Homo sapiens: one gene and its partner. The main gene of each other region encodes a partner of the protein of the gene in region 2 in a complex. Each region holds a gene or a part of one and is shown on either strand. Other genes may lie near its edges.

What was found.
Region 1: the proteins of NRXN1 (region 2) and LRRTM2 are in contact, whole or in part, in a crystal structure (PDB 5Z8Y), measured with the Homo sapiens proteins. Residues at the interface, in NP_001317021.1 of Homo sapiens: Leu139, Val158, Thr160, Arg236, Gln237, Leu238, Thr239, Ile240, Asn242; in NP_056379.1 of Homo sapiens: Asp343, His344, Gln346, Gly347, Glu348, Leu351, Asp352, Ala353, Gly356, Phe357.

Annotation. Positions count from the first base shown.
Region 1 is NC_000005.10:138,868,095-138,871,009, forward strand, and holds the end of LRRTM2 (leucine-rich repeat transmembrane neuronal protein 2 precursor), read right to left. Parts: 3' UTR 827-2,915; downstream 1-826. UniProt on the Homo sapiens protein: Involved in the development and maintenance of excitatory synapses in the vertebrate nervous system. Regulates surface expression of AMPA receptors and instructs the development of functional glutamate release sites.
Region 2 is NC_000002.12:49,917,755-49,923,210, forward strand, and holds the end of NRXN1 (neurexin-1 isoform alpha4 precursor), read right to left. Parts: intron 4,498-5,456; coding exon 4,190-4,497; 3' UTR 749-4,189; downstream 1-748.

The DNA of each region.
Region 1 (2,915 bases), on a different chromosome or scaffold from region 2:
TAAGAATACCATATATCATACATATAACATATAAAATATGTATTATTTTGACTGACGGTATTAAATATGTGTTATCTAATATGGACTGACCGTTTATGTTATCAGTAATGCTTCTAGTCAGCAGTAGCTATTAATAAAAATTTTTGGGAAGTCAAAAGTTATGCAGATTTTCGACTGTGTGGAGCAGGGGGTTGGCACCCCTAACCCCAGTGTTGTTCAAGGGTCAATTGTAGTTTAAAATCTTCCCTTCCTTTTCCCATCTGTACTCACTGAGTCGTCATCCAGGGTGGAGGAGGTCATGTAGGGATCTTCATGGTCCTAGTGTGTAAGCACCTGTGGGACCTCCCTCCTAGGAGTGGCATGGAAGGTGCTGCTGGGATGGACATCAACCAACCCCCAAGGTAGAGGCCAAGTCGCTGTTGGCTAGATACAGGCAATTGGTACCTTTCCGAAGCTCTCTGTGGTGTTAGTTCACTGTAATGGAGGATTCAGAGAGGGGCAGCCAACTCCATGCCCTGTGAGCCTGGGACAGTTGTTTGTCCACTTGCTCAGGCTCTTGACAGAGCAGCTTCTTACTGCATGACAGCTTTTTAGGCACTCTCCCTTCTCACCACTTTACCTTTACTTTCTTCTTATCCTAGTTTTACCTCTCTCTGAAGACAGGTAATGATTAGCTGCCCCTTTTTTCAGTGGACACATTTGACATTGTAGAGGAACATGGAATAAAACAACTGTTCATTTAAGATTTCTATGTCTGTCACAAATGGCTTTTCAAGTTTCACATGTCAAAATTGATAGGTTATCAAGGAAAAGTAAAAAGAAGGCATTCACTTTTTACAGTATACACAATTTTAATAACAAAACTTGCCTGTACACTGCTCTTTATGTTACCCTCCCCCCTCCCAAAACACCCTGCATAATAGTATTTTCTTCCCACCCTCAACCCATCTGCCCACCTCCCACCCAAAAAGAAAAATGGCTCTTGAAGGTGATTGAACACAATGTATTTGGACTGTACTTTGAGTTTCCAGTCTCAGTGTTGATAGGAAGGTTCACCAAACATTCCATATATCAGACTTAAAAAAAAAAAAAAAAACCGCTAAGGACAAAAATGTTAGTTGAAAGAGTTGCAGAGGTTTCCAAATGTTTGCAATAGCAGAATGAAAGCTTAAACAGTAATTTTCTATTTGTTTTTGGCCTTATTCAAGTACTATGAGTTTGCCCCAGGTTAGATAGAGAAATATTTAATTATCTATAGATGGCCTTACTGTCTCTCTCTCTTTTTTTTTTTTTTTCCTGGCTCAAGGGCTTTAGTCAATAAGATATGAAAAGTATGCCCCCAAACAGACTTTTCAGATAGGTCTGTCGCTGTATTCCTGTATTAGGAAAACGATCATGTAAGTCAGCTGTTAAAAATATTCTTTAACAAATTTTATATTGATATCCACACTTCAGAAAAAGAACAGGACATTTATAGCTTTTTCCCCTGATAGCTGTGTGTAGGAAGTGTGCCTTAAGAAAATGAAATGCCTGTTTTGAATTTTAGAATTCAAACCTAGTGCTACATAGGGCTCATTTTTATTGGAAAGATGGAGTCTAGCTCTTGGTGACTAGCATTAGAATAAGCAGATGGATTTTAATAATTAGTGGCGTTGGGAAGTTCAGTCAATTCCATTTATTGAATTGATACAGAAATTAACTTAGGCACATTAAGAAATTACATGTGTTAGTACAGATTTTTGGCTTAAAAAATTAGTATCTTTGCTTTTTGATGCTGGCAGTGGGTATTCTCAGAGTTGTGTGTGGATTTACAAGTTTATCAGCCCACTCTTTTCAGAAAGGTGATTGAAATCCCTGTCATGCTACAGAAATGAATATAAACGATTTCAAACTAGTTCTTGGTTTCTAGATGGGTATGGTATCATAGTCTTCTTTAGCTTTCCTTTTTCCAGAGAGATTAATTATTTTTCTGGTTCTTAATGGTCATTTTCCTCTAATCTTAAAAATAGAAAAAAAATGGAGTGGGTAGTGGTGGTGAAGAGGATAAAACCCCATCAAAAAACAAAAGCTCTGACACTGTGTAACCAAGATCCGCAGCGTTGCTGTGATGCTGTTCCGTTCTAGCCAGTTGGTAAAGAAAGCACAGATGACTAACAGTCTAATCTTCAAACCTGTGCTGATTCTGAAACACAAATGGACAAAAATGAAAGAAAATCTTGCCTTCTACAGGCAATTAAAAAGGGAGGTTTTTGCTTTTAAATGAGAAAGGAAAATACCTTTTTGGTACTACTGTCATTCACTTTTCTTAAAGGACATTACCCAGAAAAATGGAAGGCAAAAAATTTTGATTTTTTTCAACTGGAAAGTATGCCTCGCTAGCCTTGGCTATGCTGTTCCTCTGAATTAGTAAATGGCTGGCTTTTCCAATTTGCTTTTGTCCGTACACTAAGGATTTTGCCAGTTATGGTCCTTTAAGGATTAAGGTGGAGATTCCCAGCCAAAGAAGGGGATTTCTTACCCATCCCACAGTTTAAATCTTAATTTTGTTTGTGGTTTGAAATGATGGAAAATACTCCTCTGCTGTCCTTCAGGGCTGATGGAATCTTGTGTGCTCAGGACACAGTTGTGTTGTGACCAAGCTGTCTGTCACCTGACAAATGGCAATGGTCATCCTGATAAATGGGTTGGTAAATTTTAGCTCGTGGTGCTCTTATTTGTAATAGGGGCTTCTAATTCAGCCTGTCTGTGGGGAAGTAGGGCGCTGTGCTCTATGCTGTTAAATCAGCTTCTGTCTCTGCCCAGACAAGCCCAGGGTCTGGTTTAACAAGAGACAAAATACTCACCACTCGAGATCAACTGAATTGAACTGGGCTGAGACTTTGACAAACTAATCTGCCCACCTTAAAAAAGAGCAC
Region 2 (5,456 bases):
TTACATATACCTGCCAAGTTATTTTATGTATAAATATATACTATATATAATTATTTTATGTTAAATATTTAATACTTATATTAAAATATTAATTTTAAATATATATATAATAGCAATTATATATATTTACATTAATATATCTATCCATTATATATACATATATATCTTTTACATATATATTTACATTTATCTATCTCTATTATTGTACATATAAGTTAGTAACCCCTGATGCCTAATCACTGGGCCCTGGGCATCTATGCCCTCTATAGGTTAAGACCCAAAATCCTTGGTCTGATTACTAAGTTTTATATAGCAACCGCCTTTGAAGTGCCTACCTATTTTTAAGGGAAACTAAATTATATATCCTTTAATTTAGACATTAACAAAATGTGGATTGTCATGAATTAATAGCAATAAAGAAATAACAAATATATCTAGACACTGCAGGAACAAAACGAATTAAGCATTCATGTTCAGACTTTTTACTGTTGAAGAAAAAAAGTGCATTTTCATCATAAAATCATTTTCAAGTGCCAGGGTTTTAAAACAACAGTTTCCAACTGTTGAACTAAAACTTACTTACTCTGATAAATCATCTGATTTCTAAAAAGCTAATTTTCTTTGTAAGAAATAAATACAGTTTTATGGAAACAAACACTACGTTCTTTTATATATTTAGATTTGTTTGTTTTTTTCCAAATAAATAACACAATGTGAGAGTCAAAGAAATTAGGCAAATAGTAACGAGTATGTGATAGTGTTGGAATTTAATCACAGGTTTACTTAACTTGGATTCCATTGTCTTTTATAGAGAAAAAGCATATTTATGAAATTAGTATTTTAATATTGTTTGCAACTAATACTGTATGAGTTTATGGTTTCTGGCATATCAAGATGAACAAATATAACAAAAGTACATTTAATGGCTACATCTTTAAGTGTATGAATATAGAGGTCTTTAATGACTAGTTAAATCCAGAAAAAAGAGAGTCAACATTCTTCCTCTATAATATAAGGATGGGTCTTCCCTTCAAATGCAGCCTTCTTTACTTTCCCACTTAAGCACGAAATGGTGCCGCATATAATTTTTAAAATCAATAAATCACAGTTGTATTAAGAAATATTTTATTAACAAAACAGTAAATTCCACTTGCTTAGCATTTCCAATAATGGATAAATTGGCCTTGCAACAGAAAAACAAACAAACAAAAAAAGAAGAAGAAAACCCCTTTGATACCCAATCACACAAAGCACTAGAAGGGTAGGGTTATGTGGCCTTTCTTTGATGTCTTAGGGATTGACCACTTCACACGTTATTGTAGTATTTGTTCTTTTAAAAAAGGCAACACATTACATGGATAAAAAAGAAGCATAATCAATCAGAAAAGTTACAGTCTAGAGATGTAATCAAATTTATGCCAAGTCGTGTGAAATCCTCAATCAACTGCAAACTATGCAGGGAACCCTGATATGTTTGGTATGAAGATACTTGGGATTCAAGTCATTTTCTCTTTCTAACTCTGTTCCTCTCTTTTCTTTTTCCATTGAGGAAAAAATAATTTTTGCTAGAGTTTGTGTAAGCCAATAATATTAGAAATAATTTTGCTGATAATAAACTATATCAATCATTGCATGTAACTTTAAAATTTACGCTGGGGAGAAACATTGAAATCAATCCCAAACAACACATTTCATAGATATACTGCTTAAAATTACCATTATTCAATTTATTTTCTATTATATTTTAGAATCTTTCCAGATGGAAACTGGTTCAAGCTTAATAGATAAAATAGAAAAGCAATCTTAAAAAAAAAAACCCTTCAAGCTGTAAATTAGTAGTTTTACACTTCCCTTCTTATTTAACTGGCTTTCCCTGAGTAAGACTGAATGAGACGGGGGAAAAGAAAAGACTCGTGAATTATTTAATGTGGCAAATTAAAAAAAATGAAAATCTAGAAAAGAAGCAATGGATATTAAATTTTCATTTTATACCTTCTACTTTCTGGGTCATAAAAAGCCACTAAATTTCTTTGTACACAACAATTACTTGGCAACCATAGATAGTGGTGATTTGCTATGAATTATACATATTTCTAAGGTGCTGTATGTCTGAAATCCAGGCCACTTCTTGGCTTTTTTTTCATCAACTAAAGTATCACAAAAGATGTTTTGCATTTTTTGCCTTTGCTGATTAAAGCTAATTGGAAAGATATTCTTCTCTTCTACAAAATTTTTTATCGTTCTTTTAGAAGGTATTCAAGTAATGCAACCAATTTTTCCTGAAACATCAACTTGCAATGTAATAATGCATTTTTTGCACTACCTTCTCATATTAGTAATTTATTGCTGTGAACATCATTGAATAATATGCAAAACAAGTGTATAATCTATACTTTTCCACTACTTAATGTGTTAAACTAAAACTATATTTAATGATATATATGTAAAACCAGAAAAGTTAAAACATAGTCAATAATTAACAGAGAATGATTTTTTAAGTGGGTAGTAATACAGAATCAAAAATTACTGAAAAATACTTTCTTAGTCGAGAGAAAGTGTTTACTTTCCAGAAATGTTCATCATGCACATCAGATTCAGAGATATATATATTATTTTATTAGAAAGAAAGTTTTCAATTGCAGCAGCCAGAGTTAAGGTGTAGATTAACCAATTTTGCTTCCATAACCTGCCCACATAATGGTTCTTATTCATGCAGCAGTATATCAGTGATATTCTATTTGATAAGGAAAGGTTCATTTCTTTAGGGACTAAAATCTTCTTAAGGTTACCTGGGAGCAAGATCTCAATGAAGCAAATCACCCCATTTGTCATCAATACCTTGGCACAACCCTCTTCCTTCCTGCTTTTCAATTTGTCAATAAATATTTGCTACTGTATGCACGTTTGGATCTTCCAGCATATCTGATGGATTGCTGTGGATTCGTGTGTGTGTGTGTGTGTGTGTGTGTGTGTGTGTGTGTGTGTGTGTGAAAATAGTGAATGTATGTGGGAATGTGAGTATTTCAGGGAGAAAAGATTATAAGATACATATGTATATATGTGACTTTCTAATTCACACCTTTCATACAAGTACTAAAACTTAATTGCAACAGAATGAAGGCTGTACATATAAGAAAAGAAGTAGCTGAGTCTTTGTATATACATTCATACATATCTTCCTTAGAATAAACACTACACTGTAATTTCTTTAAAAAATAAAAGTAATTGTGGCAATTTATAATGGTGGCAAAAAAAAAGAAAAACCCAACTGAAATAATTGTTGCTCTGATGTCATAAAACTCCCTATACTTAGCAACACTTATAACATTGAATTTACCAAAAATGGCTGAAGAGCAGAGATATATTTTGCATTTTCTATACAACAGGCTATAAAACGTCACTTATCACAGTCCAGAAAGCACACAGAGATGGATTTTATATAAACATATGTAATAACATAATAAGCGTGCATGAAAATTTCCCAATGATTGCATCTATGCCCTCTTGTTTTTGTTTTGAAATTTTGTGTGAAAACGTGCCTTATATTTCACATTTTTGAAAATAAGGCCTCCATACTTTTTTTTCCTCTCTCACAACCAGAAAGGGGCTTTTTGAATGTGTTCCTACACAAGTCTTCAAAAAAGCCAGCACTTTGTTTCAAATGCAAGTTCCAACCACTGCTCCAGTTGCACCAGGCGGCAAACTCTTAAAGGTTTGCAGGTTGAGTCACTCAAAAGGACAGTCTTCTCTGGCAATTGGACTGACTTCTCAGGAAAGCGCTAGCACTTTGGCTAAATCCAGGATCATAGGTAGCTTCTTTTTTGTGTTATGTTTTGTGTTGGTTTTTGTGTTGTGCCTTGATGCTGTAGTACTCCTTTGCTTTATGAATGCGTGCGGTCATCACTGTCTTTTAGAAATGTTCCAGCAACATAAAGACAAGCAGAGTAAATGAAAACACTGTGGATGTTAGGGAATTTATTGGCCCCTGTTTTTTGTTTTTTGTTTTTCTTTTTTGAGAAACAAGAGCATGAGATACTTGTTTTTATTTTTTAAAAAGTCTTTCCTTCCTGATTGCATTCCCTGTCTTCTTTTGTATGTGCTTCATAAAAAGGAAAGTAAATAAGTTTATATTATGTCTCAGATAAAATGAAGACTATTTCTATACAAGTGTCCATTTAAGATCTTGGGATCAGACATAATACTCTTTATCCTTGTTTTTCTTATTTTTGTTGGAGCTTTTCGCACTGCTGGGTTGTTTCTCCTTTACAACAGCCCCATTGGACTGTGCTGAGTTACTGATGTAGTTTCGACTCTCGTCCACATGGTATGAGCCTTCATCCCGGTTTCTGTACTTGTACATGGCATAGAGGAGGATAAGGATGCACAGGGCGGCAGCGGCTACTATCCCAACGACCATACCCGTGGTGCTGCTGGACTCCCGGATCACTTCTGCTGAGCCTGGATACGGCTCTCTGCCGCCTGCTCGGGTTGGGTTGGCTATAGAAAAGAGGATGAGAACAAACACAAAGTGATCATTGAGTTCACTGAATACCAGAGAGCTATATTAACATTTATTATCTAATTCTAACAGCACCTATGCTTTAGGAAAGGTATGCTATTGATAAATGTAGCCATCCCTTTGCCTCATGGTTACTAAAAACTAGGGACTGTGATTTAAAGTTCTCTGGGAGATTTGTTGCTGTGTCTTCTTTCTTCACAAATCAATTTTGTTCACAGAGTTTGGTAAGCATTGTCCCAAATAAACTCCAATTAGCTCTAAAGGGCCATGTGGGTGACTTAAGTAAAAAAAACCCACAAACCCAGCATAAAGAAAAGCAGAACAGCCCTACCCTATAATACTAGAGGGAATCATAAGAATCAAATAGGTGTTGCTCTAGAACATAGGTCTAACTCTAGACTGAATCAGGACAACTAAATTTAGGATTACTTTAGAAATCATATTCCCCTTGTATTTTAAAGAATACAGTATTGAACAATAAGATAATCCATACATTTTAACTGTCTGCTTTTTAAAGTATAACTTTAGTTACATTTTTATAAATAAAAATAGACTAATTTCCATTTTGTTGGAGATTCATTTGTTTACATAAGTATGTGTGTATTTTATTAATTGATTGGGGAGCTCCCAAGATGAACTTTGGAGGAGAAAGTAATAAAATATTCTTTCTCAGTTTTAAATACAGTCTAGATTGATTTTTTGGTCAAAACTCTGAACTACCTAATAGATTAGATAATAATAGAAGGCTGGCTAGTCTAGTTTTATTCAACTGACAAAACCCTTCTTCAGTCTTCCCAAAGTATAAATAAGGCTCTTTCTTGGATGAGACCAATGGATTTTGGGGTGCCTACGTCTTCTTGAAGGCCTGGTCAGGCACTGAAATTGATGATTGATGGGGAAGAATGGACCTGAGATTTAATTGGTAGATATGAGGAGA